2 separate regions of the Homo sapiens genome follow, and region 2 is linked to region 1. A link means that fine-mapping ties the variant in region 1 to the expression of a gene that starts in the linked region. Tissue or cell type: lung. Region 1 holds a variant in brackets; the other region holds the start of a gene. All regions are shown on one strand. Distances are between the middles of the regions.

Evidence for each region. PIP is the estimated chance that this variant, and not a neighbour inherited with it, causes the effect.
Region 2: SENP2 starts here. The variant in region 1 is fine-mapped to the expression of SENP2 in lung (TOPMed, PIP above 0.99).

Annotation. Positions count from the first base shown.
Region 1 is chr3:185,625,595-185,633,700 of GRCh38, reverse strand. SENP2 (SUMO specific peptidase 2) reads right to left here. Exons shown (of 17, transcript NM_021627.3): 16 at 7,308-7,403; 17 at 150-3,919. The coding sequence ends at 3,857. Among named protein-coding and RNA genes, the nearest start is that of SENP2, 43 kb to the right of the region's middle. The variant A/G (reference allele first, on the strand shown) is at 3,138.
Region 2 is chr3:185,581,993-185,590,098 of GRCh38, reverse strand. SENP2 (SUMO specific peptidase 2) reads right to left here and starts at 3,804. Exons shown (of 17, transcript NM_021627.3): 1 at 3,585-3,804. The coding sequence starts at 3,685. RefSeq lists enhancers at 3,725-4,124, 4,165-4,214, 3,708-4,326, 4,327-4,945, 4,946-5,565 and 1 more.

The sequences.
Region 1 (8,106 bases):
ATCATAGTAAGGATATGTATTACTTCACAAAAGTGTATGTGCAATGTTGTTTGTGTCCATATACAATCACACTGTGTGTGTGTGTGTGTGTGGTCACAACATAAAATACTTATTCCTATGAGTTGCAATAAAAAACAAGTGAAAGCCACTGAATTAAAGAGATGAATTTATTGGTAAATAGATAAAATTAACACCTATTTTAATATATCCAAACCCCTTCCTTATATATATTAGGTAAATTAAAAGAAAAAAATTATCAAAGCAATACTACAGCCAGCTACATCGCCAATTTACAAATGAGTTAGTAAGTACCATAAGTTTGTTTGAATATCAGGTGCTTCAGAGTTTTTCTCAAACAGTTACAAAAGAGATTAGGTTCCCAATCAGTTCACAAAAGCTAATTTAAAGAATGTAGCTTAACTACAGTACTGAGGTTGTCACACACTTAACTTTCGGTCTCTTGCTTATTTATTCATATCTGAGGTTCACTGTTTCTACTAGGATACATTCCGCCCACACCCACACCTTGGTCCCCACATCAAGCAGCTCCTCACAGCAGGAAGACATCCGCTATCAGACATGGTTTTCTGAAGTTGTGCTTAGGATTTCAGAGGAGGAAAAATTCAGAGGTTCTAATAGCCTTCGGTAACTGAGGTAGAATATGGGGCTCCCAAGAATATCTTCCATATGCCCCAAATCTGTTTCCCTCCCACCCCCATCCAGCTCTGTTCAAGGTCAAGTTTGAGAAAGATACGTGTTCTCAATGGTATATTTTTAAAATCCACATCAATTTTTAAGAGACTACCTGCTAAAGGAGAATAATGGCTCACTGCATCTTTTCTCAACCCCCTAAACTATTTTAAAAACACACTGGCAGGGACAGGTGCAATGGCTCACGCCTGTAATCCCAGCACTTTGGGAGGCCGAGGCGGGCAGATCACTTGAGGTCGGGAGTTTAAGACCAGCCTGACCAACATGGAGAAACCCCGTCTCCACTAAAAATACAAAATTAGCCAGGGGTGGTGGCACATGCCTGTAATCCCAGCTACTCGGGAGGCTGAGGCAGGAGAATCGCTTGAACCTGGGAGGTGGGGGTTGCAGTGAGCTGAGATAGCGCCATTGCACTCCAGCCTGGGCGACAAAAGTGAAACTCCGTCTCAAAAACAGGCTGGGTGAGGTGGCTCATGACTGTAATACCAGCACTTTGGGAGGCCGAGGCGGGTGGATCACCTGAGGTCAGCAGTTCAAGACCAGCCTGGCCAACATGGCGAAACCCCATCTCTACTAAAAGTACAAAAATTAGCAGGGTGTGGTGGTGGGCACCTGTAATCCCAGCTACGCAGGAGGCTGAGGCAGGAGAATCGCTTGAACCTGGGAGGCGGAGGTTGCAGTGAGCTGAGATCACACCATTGTACTCCAGCCTGGGCGACAAGAGACTCTGTCGCAAAAAAAAAAAAAAAAAACAAAAAAAAAAAACAAAAAAAAAACCACTGGCTTTAATGGTGATAATTTGCTACTAATAAAATCAATAGCTGTTTTTCAACTGAACACTTAAACTTTTAGATCCAAATAAACTGTTTGGATCTAAAAAACTATATTACTAACATGTTTCCTTATGCCAAGGGAGACATGTGAGTGCCTAGAGAAGTATGGCCTGTGGTCTCCCACATTCAATTCAGGAACTCAGGGTCAAGCAGAAGGCCATGCTATAGACTTCAACACTCTGCTCTTCCCAATTTCATTATGTCCTGCAAGTTTTAAGAGCCGTCCGGAAGAGTGTAGGTTAATGGAAAGCTCAGTGAGAACTGCTCTGAAGAAGCCCCTCAAAATAATACATTAAGCTCAGCATCATTCACGTGGGCGGAATACAAACTGACATTCCTAACAGGACTTACCTAGCATGGACTCGATCTTAACCATGGTACCAAACTCTCAAGTGAAGCACACTGATGCCTGGTGAAAGCCAGGCGTTTGGTATGATGCTGACCTAGTGAACCTCTGGCCTTTTTGGCTGTGCTCATTACCTGGTCCCAGCACTCACTGGCACAATGCCAGGAGCCCAGAGAAAGGAGCAGGGGCTGCGGGGGGGGGGGGGGGAGGGGGAAGGGGGGAGGGAGGGTGGGGAAAGGGGAGAAGGGGGGAGGGTGGGGGAAAGGGGGAGGGTGGGTGTTAGGGAGAGAGGGAGGGGGAGGGAGGGGGAGGGGGGGGAGGGAGGGAGGGGGGAGGGAGGGAGGGGGAGGGGAGAGGGAGGGAGGGGGAGTGGGAGGGGGGGGGGAGAGGTGTGGTACAACCTGCTCCCGCTTCAGTCATCACCCACCACATGGCCTCTGGCTGACCATCCAGTAGGCCCAGCATTTTCCATCCACACCACAGGCCCCATGTCCTAAACCAGGAGTTTTACAAGTCTCAGGGAACTGGCTGCAATAGCTGTAACCAGTATACCTCTGGGACCAGCAGCCGGAGCACTGCAAATGGCAGGCGTGTAGATTCATAGGTAACACGTGCACAATTTTTCCAGTTTTACCTCTTGCTTTTATGAACCAGAACAAGTCTGGGAGGTTTAAGTAGGGAGAGGGTTAGAAATCATTTCAGCATATACTTTTTTAGGTTCTGCCAGACCACCTTTTATTACATCAGAAAAGCAACACTAGGCACTAGATCTTGCAAAATATGTTCTGACCAACTCTAAACTGTCTGAAGTTATAACCATATCAGTAAGGTTTTTAATGAACAAAAAAGTTAAATACAAACTTTCATATGCAAAATAGATTATTGTATAACTGGCAACCTCAGAGCCAAGTACTAAATTTTCTTCCACAAATTTCAGTGGGGATGGAGTGGGGAGATGTTAGTCTTAATGAGTAGAAAACTTAATTTAGACTTAATATATAGAAAACAAAAACTCTGAGGAAAAATAGCTTTAAATTGAATAGTATCTTTTGAAATAAACAGCTCAGGCCAGCCCCTACAATTCTGAGGTTTATACTCAACCAGATCTGGGATGAAAATGAAGATTTAGGGTTTACAGTTACTTCAAATCCATGAATCCAGTTTGAAGACTAAGCCAAGTCACCACATTTCCAGAAGGGGAAGTCTCTTTAAGGTGACCACAACACTCTTCGGAAGATGCTTGGATA[A/G]TCAGAGTCCCTTGGGCACAGTTCCACTGTTCACGGCACTGTGCCAACGCTGTAGTGTCAGACTTCCTCTGAAAGGCAACAGGAGCCCTATCCCACAGCATTTTCATTTCTCCCAGCATTTTTTGAGCCTCAAAAAAACAAAAACAAAAAAAATCCCAAACCCTCCAGCTTCATGTTGGCAGTTACTGCTCCAGCTCCACTTCCTTCCGCCCCCAGTGAGAGTTCCCTCCTGCTCTTCAGCAGGGAGTGGCAGCTTGAGTAACATTCCTTTCAGAAATAAATAGTTCAAACAAGTAATTTAGAGCTAACTGTAAAAGAGCAGCAGTAAATGACCACTGCCCATTATGTTTGCAAACGAGTGAGTGAATGAATACGCTGAACAAACACACAGAAACAAACAATTCACAGAATAAATCCTGCATTTCCCACATTCATAGGGAAAAGAATCTCTTAAAAAAAATATTAGTTAGCGTTTGTTCTTGTGTGGGTTGAACAGTCCAAAGCTCTGAGCAGGCACAGCCTTACAAACAGGATTGCAAGCAGCCCTCTGCACCCCAAGTCAGGACTAGAGTACAGTGAGAGGCCTTCATGCACTTTTGACAGCTCAGTACCTGTGAGAACAGAAGTGATGCAGGGACTTTTTAACCCACAATGCATGAGGTATATGGAAATGTCTGTGAAAGAACCACCAGCAGCTAGAGGGACCAGGCAAAGTTTTCTCACAGCAACTGCTGATGAAGGATTTCCCACACCATCTTCTTCCGGAAGAGAGGCATCTGGTGCTGCAAAGAACCCCATAAACAACGCCCGCATTACATATTAATGTGCATGGCAGCACAACCTTCAGGTGTAATCATGTAATAAAGCAGGATGTCCATGTGCTTTTTCTAAGTGTTGACATTTTTACATCATGGAACATACTTATAAAACCATTTTTAACAGTTCATAATTACATGATATGTACCATAAGCACTTTTTTTTTTTTTTTGAGATGGAGTCTTGCTGTGTCACCCAGGCTGGAGTGCAGTGGCGCGATCTGCTCACTGCAACCTCTGCCTCCTGGGTTCGAGCGATTCTTGTCCCTCAGTCTCCAGCGTAGCTGGGACTACAGGTATGTGCCAGCACACCCGGCTTATTTTTTATATTTTTAGTAGAGACAGGGTTTCACCATGTTGGCCAGGCTGGTCTTGACCTCCTAACTGCAGGTGATCCGCCCGCCTCAGCATCCCAAAGTGCTGAGATTATTTATAGGCAAAAGCCACCACAGGCGGCCTACCATAAGCATTTTTATATGTTAAGGAAAACCAAAGCAGGATGTAGAATTATACAGTATAGTACAACTTCACAGTCCTGCAAATATCCACGTGGTGGCACAATAGGCAACTTTTCTACTTATATGAATTTTCAAAACATTCTAAAATGAACATATTCTGTTTTTTTATGAGAAAAACGTATTTATTTAAATAAAAAACAACAAAATCTACAAGTTTCTTTCTGCTCTACCAGGCGTTGTACATTGCCAATTCTGTTCAAACAGCAACTTCTCCCTTTAAAATCTCATCTTATTAGGTTCAGAGAACAGCCAACTGCTTTGCTATTTGGCAACATGAAACAATGAGATGTTTTGCTTAATAAATGATTCTGCTTTAACTGAGAATCACTACATGGGCAATTTGCAAAGCAGCAACACAAAAAGCAACTCCAAAATTACCCGTAGTACAACTAGTCCTTCTAGTGTATACGGAAGTTCACATTCTTGGCCAGGCGCGGTGGCTCACGCCTGTAATCCCAGCACTTTGGGAGGCCAAGGTGGGCATATCACCTGAGGCCAGGAGTTCGAAACCAGCCTGACCAACATGGAGAAACCCCGTCTCTACTAAAAATACAAAATTAGCCAGGGGTGGTGGCGCATTCCTGTAATCACGGTTACTTGGGAGGCTGAAGCGGAAGACTTGCTTGAACCCGGGAGGCGGAGGTTGCAGTGAGCTGAGATTGCGCCATTGCACTCCAGCCTGGGCAACAAGAACGAAACTCCGTCTCAAACAAAAAAAGAAGTTCACATTATTGAGGCACTCCTGATGTATCATTATAAATAGTTGGATGTCCCTTACTATAAACTAGTGATGTCACCGGGCGTGGTGGCACATGCCTGTAATCCCAGCACTTTGGAAGGCCAAGGCAGGTGGATCACCTGAGGTCAGGAGTTCAAGACCAGCCTGGCCAATATGGTGAAACCCTGTCTCTACTAAAAATACAAAAATTAGCCAGGCATGGTGGTACATGCCTGTAGTCCCAGCTACTGGGGAGGCTGAGGCAGAAGAATCGCTTGAACCTGAGAGGGAGGTTGCAGTGAGCCAAGATCACACCACACTGCACTCCAGCCTGGGCAACAGAGCAAGACTCCATCTCAAAATAATAATAATAATAATAATAAACTAGTGATGTCCTCCCTAGGGGTGGGGGCTAAAAAGTCTTAACACATGATTCTTAAATTATTTTAAATAGTTCAAAACATCTAGTAAAAACTGCACATTTGCTCTTAGTAAAACTGCTGAGACTAAGCAATAAATGCCTTTATTTTTTACTGGAATTATATTAATTCAGCACGGGAGTCCTAGTTACTTCACGTAATAGAGTTTGTATTACAGTTTGTATTCATGGAATACATACAGTTTGCTTGGTAGACAACATCTATCAAAATAAGGTCTGTGGATGAAAAATATTCTTTAATGAGGTTGTCCTCAGTTGTAAAAAGGTTGAGAATCCACTGTTACAAATTCTCAAGAATTCCCAACATACTTGAGTTTCCAATCAAATGCAAAGCCATGGAGAATTAAACAAAAGAGCAGAACAGGCCAGGCGCGGTGGCTCACGCCTGTAATCCCAGCACTTTGGGAGGCTGAGGCAGGTGGATCACGAGGTCAGGAGTTCGAGACCAGCCTGGCCAACACGGTGAAACCCCATCTCTGCTAAAAATACAAAAATTAGCTGGGCATGGTGGCGCATGCCTGTAGTCCCAGCTACTGGGGAGGCTGAGGCAGGAGTATTGCTTGAACCCAGAAGGCAGAGGTTGTAGTGAGCTGAGATCGTGCCACTGCACTCCAGCCTGGGCAACAAAGCGAGACTCCATCTCAAAAACAAAACAAAACAAAACAAACACAAAAGAGCAGAACAGAAAGGAAAAGCAGTATTCACAAGTTACATCTTAGACCTGTGGCTTCAGTTCTCACAGGCCGATTTTTCCCTTGCTATTAAACACTGACATACCTCTTTCTTTGGCTAGAAATAATAATACACAGGAACCAATGAATGCCACAGTTCAGAGATTTGCAAATTGTGCCCATTGTGTCACCAAAGACTAGGATAAACCTGAGAGCAGATAAAATAACCCTGATTCTGGCAGGAGTAGGGCTAAAACCAAGATTTACAGCAATAAGAATAGCACAGCTACTACTATTTTTTTTTTTTTTTTTTTTTTTTGAGACAGGGTTTCTCTCCTGTTGCCCCAGGCGGCTGAAGTGCAATGGCACGATCTCGGCTCACCACAACCTCCACCTCCCGGGTTCAAGCAATTCTCCTGCCTCAGCCTGCCTCCCTAGTAGCTGGGATTACAGGCATGCACCACCACGTGGCTAATTTTTTGTATTTTTAGTAGAGACATGGTTTCTCCATGTTGGTCAGGCTGGTCTCGAACTCCTGACCTCAGGTGATCCACCTGCCTCGGCCTCCCAAAGTGCTGGGATTACAGGCATGAGCCCAGCTACTACTATTTATTTTATTTATTTATTTTTGAGACAGAGTCTCGCTCTGTCACCCAGGCTGGAGTGCACTGGTGCGACCTCGGCTCACTGCAACCTCCACCTCCTGGGTTCAAGTGATTCTCCTGCCTCAGTCTCCTGAGTAGCTGGGATTATAGGCATGCACCACCACGCCTGGCTAATTTTTGTATTTTTAGTAGAGATGGGGTTTCACCATGTTGGCCAGGCTGGTCTTGAACTCCTGACCTCAGGTGGTCCACCCGCCTCGGCCTCCCAAAGTGCTGGGATTACAGGTGTGAGCCACCACGCCTGGCCAGCTACTACTATTGAGAGCTGAATGTGTGCCAGGCACTGGCCAAGTGCCTTATCTTGCTTAGTAACAAGTAAATGGATGAAGAGGGTCTTCACTCACCTGAGTAAATGTGATAGGTTTGTCCCTAGAAATATAATCTGCATATTTACAAGTAAACATTCCACAATCACTCCCATTCAGCTGTTGAGGAATCTCCTAAAATTACAAAGAAAAAAGAAGAGAGGAAAGGGTAAAACATCATTAAATACAAATTCCTTGGACTTTTTCTAAATATTGCTGTAAACAATATTATAAAGGTAAATATTAAATCAGGTATTACCTAAACACACAGTCATATACAAAAAACACAATTATTCTTACTCTATGTGGTATAAAACATAGATCATAGCAAGGGAAAAACAGGCCTTGTGAGAACTGAAGCCACAGGTCTAAGATGTAACTTGTGAATACTGCTTTTCCTTTCTGTTCTGTTCTTCTGTTTAATTCTCCATGGCTCTGCATTTGATTGGAAACCCTAACTATGAGATGGAGTGCATGACCCGACCCCACAGGAAATGCTTTTCAGAAGAGAAAAACACAAAGTGAGAGTTGCATCTCTCAGCTCCCATTCCAAGAAACCAAACTGAAAGGAGGTTTACTACCAGGGATGCTAGTCAGAATTATTTCAGAAGCATTTATCAATTTTAAAAAGGGCCAAGTGTGGTCAATCGGAAATGTAACTTCTCTAGCTAAGAAAATAAGACTACTGCTTTGGACCCTACAGCTTCAAGGTGGACAGAGAGAAGTTCTGGATAGGCTTTAACCAATTAGGATCTTGCCTTGATGGATCAGTTCTGCCGTAAGGCAAAAACACTTGGTACAAGCAGCACTAAGAGCATAATAAGCCAAAGGTGGTGGA
Region 2 (8,106 bases), 44 kb after region 1:
AAAAAAATATATATATATAGATTTACACACACATTCATTTCTGTAAGTAAACTTACTATTCATATAACACATCCCCCTTCTATCACTTTGTCATAAAATGAGATCCAACTGATGTTTTAAAAGAGAATGCTGGTGGGACACAGTGGCTCGTGCCTGTAATCCCAGCACTTTGGGAGGCCAAGGGGGAGGATCGCTTGAGCCTTGGAGTTTGACATCAGCCTGGGCAACAAAGTAAGACCTCATCTCTACGATAAAAAAATAAATAAAAAATTAGCCAGCCTTGGTGGTAAGTGAGTGTGGTCCCAGCTACACTAAGGCAGGAGGATCACTTGAGCCCAGGAAGTAAGGCTGCAGTGAGCCCAGGTCATGCCACTGCACTCCAGCCTAATCAAAAGAGTGAGACCTTGTTTTAAAAAGAAATAAAACTAAAAATAAAAGCAAAACAAAAGAGAGAATGCTATTCTATAGTAGGCTTTTCACATGCGAAGACTTACTGCTACAGTTTCAACTATTTGAGAGAGAAACAAACTTCTTACCAAATAATAATTTGCCATCTGGTTAAAGTACAAACTTAAAACTGGCCAAAGTCACTTAGCTAGTAAATGAACCCAGGTAAGAGTTTAGGACAGTATTTTCTCTTTCGCTCCAGAAATGATTTAAAAACAACAAACAAGCAATTTCCTTTTGAAAATGATCCCCAAAGAAAGCCATCTTTTACTTTAGGTGACAGTATTAATATGAACAGCCTTAAAAGACAATTCTTTTTTACTGTTTTTTCTTTTGTGTGTGTGTAAGGGAGTTAAAAAAAACTGTTCTACAACTTAAAAAAGACAAATCTTAATCAAGTGTTATATTTAACTTCATTTTTATCACGCAAACTACATTATGATGGTAATAAAGAACTTTGGAATTGAGGAAAGTTTCAGGACCCAGATGTCAAGAATGCTAAAGGGTCATAGTATATTACTCATCATCTCTCTGAACCCTTATGATCAATTATATTCACACATGCAAAAAAAAAAAATGAATAGAATGAGATCCCAGGATTCCATTCAGCTCATAACTTTATACATTCCAACAAGCCCTGCCGGGCTTCATTTTGACTGAAAATTGGTTTACACTGAGAAGTGTTGTTTTGGATTAAGGATGTGAACACCTAAAGTATAGTAAAGATCAAGGTTTTGATCGCCAAACCATGTTCCACTGACTAGCAGGGATTCACATCAAGGAGAGGACAAGGGAGAGGAAATTAGCTTTCCCTTATTCCATAAATAGGGACCAAGTGCTTATCATGCACCAGACTCTGCAAAAGGCCCCAGAGTAGGACAGACAAATACTACCCTTATATACATTAAGCATCAGTTTAGGCACTTTACACCACGTTCTCAAATGATCCTTATATCAACCCAACGGAAAGATAGGAGAGAAAAATAAGGCAAAACCATGTATCTCTGGAACACACGATGCAATTTAGCCAACAACCAATCTCATCAATAACCTGCATTCTCAGACTAATGTATTAGACATCTTGTTCTCTCAAGCTCCCACAAATGAACACTTCTTCCACTTTTCTTGATATTGAGGCTTAATTTAAAAAATGAAATTAACGGCCGGGCCCGGTGGCTCACGTCTGTAGTCCCAGCATTTTGGGAGGCCGAGGCGGGTGGATCACGAGGTCAGGAGATCCAGACCATCCTGGCTAACACGGTGAAACCCCGTCTCTACTAAAAAATACAAAAAATTAGTCGGGCGAGGGCCGGGCGCGGTGGCTCACGCCTGTAATCCCAGCACTCTGGGAGACCGAGACGGGCGGATCCTGAGGTCAGGAGATCGAGACCACGGTGAAACCCCGTCTCTACTAAAAATACAAAAAATTAGCTGGGCGTGGTGGCGGGCGCCTGTAGTCCCAGCTACTCGGGAGGCTGAGGCAGGAGAAAGGCGTGAACCTGGAAGGCGGAGGTTGCAGTGAGCCGAGATCGCGCCATTGCACTCCAGCCTGGGCGACAGAGCGAGACTCCGCCTCAAAAAAAAAAAAAAAAAAAAAAAAATTAGCCGGTAGTGGCCGGGCGCTGTGGCTCAGGCCTGTAATCCCAGCACTTTGGGAGGCTGAGGCGGGTGGATCACGAGGTCAGGAGTTCAAGACTAGCCTGGCCAAGATGGTGAAACCCCGTCTCTACTAAAAAAAATACAAAAAATATAAGCCGGGTGCAGTGGCAGGCGCCTGTAATCCCAGCTATTCCGGAGGCTGAGGCAGAAGAATCGCCTGAACCCAGTGGGCAGAGGTTGCAGTGAGCTGAGATCGTGCCACCGCACTTCAGCCTGGGCAACAAAATGAGACTCTGTCTCAAAAAAAAAAAAAAAAAAAATAGCCGGGCATGGTGGCGGGCGCCTGTAGTCCCAGCTACTGGGGAGGCTGAGGCAGGAGAATGGCGTGACTCCCGGAGGCAGAGCTTGCAGTGAGCCGAGATTGCGCCACTGCACTCCAGCCTGGGGGACAGAGCGAGACTCCTTCTCAAAAAAAAAAAAAATTAACACTTGATCACTAAAGTTGAAGAGGGGGCATAGAATTTGTATAGTATTTTATTTTCCAGATTTTTAGGTAAGGAGGTCGATACAATAAAATGGGACACTCCAAAGAGTAGATGCTAAATAAGAATAGCTTTTGGGGCTGAGTGCAGTGGCTCATGCCTGCAGTCCCAGCACTTCCAAAGGCTGGGGTGGGCGGATCACTTGAGGTCAGGAGTTCAAGGCCAGCCTAGCCAATATAGTGAAACCCCATCTCTACTAAAAACACAAAAATTAGCCAGGCGTGGTGGTGCACACCTGCAATCCCAGCTACTTGGGAGGCTGAGGCAGGGGAATCGCTTGAACCCAGGAGGCGGAGGTTGCGGTAAGCCGAGATCGCACCACTGCACTCCAGCCTGGGCGACAGAGCAAGACTCCGTCTCAACCAAAAGAAAAAGAAAAAAAGAAAAGAATAGCTTTGCGTTTCCCCCAAATTTTAACCGAATTTAAGAGTACAGACTAGTGATTGTTTTAAAGGAGTGAGGCACCTAAGCCTTTTTACTCATTCACTAATTCTAAAGCACAAAACCCTTCTGGCCCCAAACACACAGACTGTTTGACAGCTGTTTTGGAACAAAACAGGTGCTGTTTCTTGCTGCAAGGACAGTACTTGCAGTCAAAACGGCTTTGGGCAAGCTATGAATCTCACTTCAACTGCACTTAATGTCTGCAGATGACACTTGCGAGGGTGCTTTGTAAACAGTGAGCCACAACAAAGACAGTATTCCTTCAATGTTAGTGTTCAGCCTAAGAGCGGCAAAGCCCCATTTGTTATCAGCAACCAGCTTGGCCTCTGACAAGAATGTCAAAGACCCTGCCATCACCGGCCGCTACGAAGACGACCAGCTCCTCCTTCATCAGGAGCTGCCTCCCTACAGCCTGGCGGGAGCGACTACGTCACTAGGATCCCGGCGACCTGTTTCGGGTGAGCCTGGCTGAATCAAAGCTATCACGGCCGAGGAGCCCGCTGTGGGGGAGGGGGTAAGGCCAGGCTGGCGCTCAGCCCCCTCTCGTCTCACCTGTCTGAGCGCCGCCTCTTCAGGAGGGCCCGGGCAGGGGGCACCGACCGGTCGCAGAAACGGAAAATGGTGCCGAGAATCCTAACCAGCCATCTGTACATACCAGGCCCAAGCAGCAGCGGCGGCCGACACACCCCGAGACGCAAACCCCAGAGCTGTCGCCGCCGCTGCCGCCTTCGCCGTCTTAACCACCACCGCCAGAGTTCGGTCGCTGATTTGTGACGCGATTCAAGAGCCCACAGATACAGCGTCCCCAGGGCTACCAGAGGCCCCCGCCCGCCACCACTCCTGACGTCACCTCCTCCCGCCCGACCGGAAAGCTCCATTCTCAATCTGCGCACGCGCAACCTAGCACCGCTCCCTATTTCCGAGCCCAGCAACAAGAGTAATTGTGGGACGGTCCCGGCCCAATCGCTGACGAGATCGGAAGGGCTGTCGGCAGGGTTTTCTCTTCGGCGGAGCCAATCCGGAGCCGGCCCGTGGGACAAGGCCCACAGGCCACATGTGAGGCTGCTCCACTCCGGAGGAGGCGTTCCGGGGTCCCAGAGGACATTAGGTGCTCAGTGTTTGCTGAATGCACATGTAAAGGTAGATCAGGTTAATTAACACACGTTTACCGTTTTAGGCGCCCTTTATTTTGCACTTACCTTTTGCCTCGTACTTTTCACGCATTGTCACCTTAATATGCCCAGCAATGGCGTGTGACAGAGAGTCTTAAGCCAGTTTTATAAGTCAAGGAAATTGAGGCATAGAGCGATTAAGTTATTTGTCTAAGATCACAAAACTAGCTAGAGACGTGGCTGGAACTTGAACCCGGGGTCTGAGTACCAGCGCCAGTCCCTCGCCCTTGAGGTCAGTCTACTTGGAGACATGTACATAGATAATTACAAATTACAATACACCGTAAGTGGTTGCTGTGATAAAGGTATGTGCAGAGTGCAGTGGGAGCCAGAGAAAGGAAAACCACACACTGAGGGAGAGAAGGAAAGGGCAGATGTCCTCAAGAAAGGCTTCACAGAAATTTAAGGATGAAACCTGCGGCCCACTAATGTCTCCTACCCTGGGCTAGTAAGTAATGAGTCTCGTTACTCTCCCTCTATAATTCCAATGTCACACTTCTAGTTAATTGTCAACTATAGGCCGGGCGCGGTGGCTCCTGCCTTTAATCCCAGCACTTTGGGAGGCTGAGGTGGGCAGATAGCTTGAGCCCAGGAGTTTGAGACCAGTCTGTGCAACATAGTAAAACCCCATCTTTACAAAAAATACAAAAATTAGCCGGGTGTGGTGGCACGCACCTGTAGTCCCAACTACTTGGTAGGCTGAGGTGAGACGATCACTTGAGCCCAGGAGGTTGAGACTGCAGTGAGTCGTGATCACGCCACTGCACTCCAGCCAGGGTGACAGAGTGGGACCCTGACGCACCCCATCAAAAAATTATCAACTGTAAAACAAATCCCACCCTATTTAGTGATAGAAAATCCAGTCCCCTCTTCCAAACAATCCTAAGAATCCTCAAAGGTTTTCATGCCCCACAAATCCATTCCTGATTAACTTGTTTCCTACTTGTGATTCAGTTAAGGCCAGAGTTTTACACTTGCTTGAACTTCAACGCTGGCACTCCCCAGTACAGCCTCTTCCTTTCCTCAATAGACAGCATTCCAGGCCGGGTGTGGTGGCACACGCCTGTAATCCCAGCATTTTGGGATGCCAAGGCAGGCGGATCACTTGAGGACAGGAGTTCAAGACCAGCCTGGCCAACATGGTGAGACAACCCCATCTCTACTAAAAAAAAAAATACAAAAATTAGCCAGGCATGGTAGTACACTCCTGTAATCCCAGCTACTTGGAAGGCTGAGGCAGGAGAATCGCTTGAACCTGGGAGGTGGAGGTTGCAGTAAGCGGAGATTGCACCACTGCACTCCAGCCTAGGCAACAGAGCAAGACTCTGTCTCAAAAAATAAATAAATAAAATAAATACATGTGTGTGTGTATGTGTGTGTGTGTGTGTGTATGTGTGTATATATATATATATATATATATATATATATATATATATATATATGTAGCATTCCAGAATTGTGCTGCAAGCCACCCCCTAGAGCTTCAGAATCACCAGCCACACACCTGAAGCTACCACCACTCTGGCCTCGGGGGCTGGGGTCATATCCTAGAGGATGGAAGCAAATCCTAAGTGTGGACACACCCGCCTCCCTTATTCCCCTAAGCATAGCAAACACCAACCAGGCTGTTGCTGAAAGTTTGGGGCATTACAAAGCTGAGAAGACTTAGAAGTGGCTATTAGATTATGTAGCATCTATAGTCCCTGGCCTATTGTCTCGCAAAGGAATTCCCTTCACCTCAAGGCCATCCCTTTACTCGTAACACCTTTGGCAAGCTGCCAACAGAAGGGACTTTTCCCTCTACCTCTACCCCGACTATTTCAGGCTGGACTCCCCGTAAATGTAATCAAGAGTCAGGACTCCTATTAACAAAAGACAGTCATTGGCATTATTGTGCAAAGCAGTTCAGTTACGTCTGTCCCTTCCACTCACTATTGAGAGTTGGGCTTTGCCTTTGCCAAACCAAGAAGCCCGCTCAAGTACTGGGAGAGGATTCTCCCAAATAAAAGAGCAGTCTTCATTTAAACACGAATCATACATCCTAAGAGAACAATTTTTTTTTCCAAGTTAAAAAACACACACACACATAAATCAGAAAACTACAAGCTCTGCCAGGCACGGTGGTTCATGCCTGTAATCCCAGCACTTTGGGAGGCCGCGGCAGGCGGATCACGAGGTCAAGAGATCGAGACCATCCTGGCCAACATGGTGAAACCCCATCTCTACTAAAAATTAACTGGGCGTGGTGGCGCGTGCCCGTAATCCCAGCTACTTGGGAGGCTGAGGCAGGAGAATCACTTGAACCCGGGAGGCGGAGGTTGCAGTAAGCCGAGATCACGCCACTGCACTCCAGCCTGGCGACAGAGCGAGACTCTGTCTCAAAAACAAAACAAAACAAAACAAAAAACCTACAAGCTGCTTTTGAATAGCAACTTATCCCAGGTCTGGCCACTGAGATTTAAGAAATACTGTGGTAAGCTAGGTGTGGTGACTCACACCTGTAATCCCAGCACTTCGGGAGGTCCAGGCAGAATGATCACTTGAGCCAGGGAGTTTGAGACCAGCCTGGGCAACACAGGGAGACCTGTCTCTAAAAAAAATTTTTTTTTAATTGGCCAAGAGTGGTGGCATGTGCCTGTAGTCCCAGCTACTTGGGAGGCTGAGGTGGGAGTCAAGGCTGCAGTGAGTTGTGATTTCACCACTGCACTCCAGCCTAAGTGACAGAGTGAGATTTATAGTCTCAAAAAAAAAAAAAAAAAGAAAAAGAAAGAAATATATTGGGGTCACACTTGATAGCCCTGCGGTGCAACACAACAACACATTTTTTTTTTTCTTTTCCTGCCTCATAAATAGCACCCTTACAAACTCAATACTGAAACATTGGCCATCTGCCAGGAAGAGTGAGAAGGCTTCAGAATTACAGATCTCAGTCAGAATCTCAGGACCCCATCAGCAAACAATAACTCATGAATCGAATGTGGCAATCCTCAGCCTCCCACCGTGCATGCTCCCTCCATATCCCCCTAGTTACCCTCTAGAAGGAAGAAAAGGAGACGCATCCTTATACTCGCTCCCACCTGGGACTTGTCTGCCAGTTGGTGCCTTCGCTGTCCTGTGGTCCACAGTAGAGACATGGGTGACTGTCCATCCACTGGCCAAGGAGTGGGATTATCCTTAACCCCAACCCCACCACTGCCACAGCCTTTCCGGGACCTAGCAGCGCTTTACTGGAGGGCCATGGGAGAATCCCAAGGCCATATGGAGTAACAAGGACATTGAGATTTCTGCCCTTGGCTTGGATAATTTGCAGCCTTGTACTGCAAGAGGGGCACAACCTCATCGCTTAAGCTTTCGCAGGTGTTCCAATCAGATGCCCCAGTTCTCCAAGAAGATCCTTATCCCCTTTCAGCTCAGAGCAGCTCCTTGAAGCCTTTTCAGGGCCCCACCCCCTTCTTCCTCCAAACCTACCTCCCCTCCAATCCATTCTTTAGTCTTGCAAATTTCCCCTTTTAAAGCATTCAGAGAACTTTAACAAACTTCTTCTCAACTTTGTTTTTCCTGACCCCTGGACAGAAAAGAATTCTAGGCCATTTGTTGGAAAGGGTAAGGGCCCCTAGAGGAGGTTGTGTCGGGTTAGGCCTAATGTGCCTAAAATCCAACATAATTCACCACTCTGTAGATTAATTTCTTTCTAGGTACCAACTCTTCTGGTACTTTTTTTTTTTTTTTTTTTTTTTTTGGAGACGGAGTCTCATTCTGTCACCCAGGCTGGAGTGCAGTGGCACGATCTTGGCTCACTGCAACCTCCGCCTCCCGGGTTCACACGATTCCCCTGCCTCAGCCTCCTGAATAGCTGGGATTACAGGTTTTTCTTAAGTACCAGACGAGGGCTGGGCGCGGTA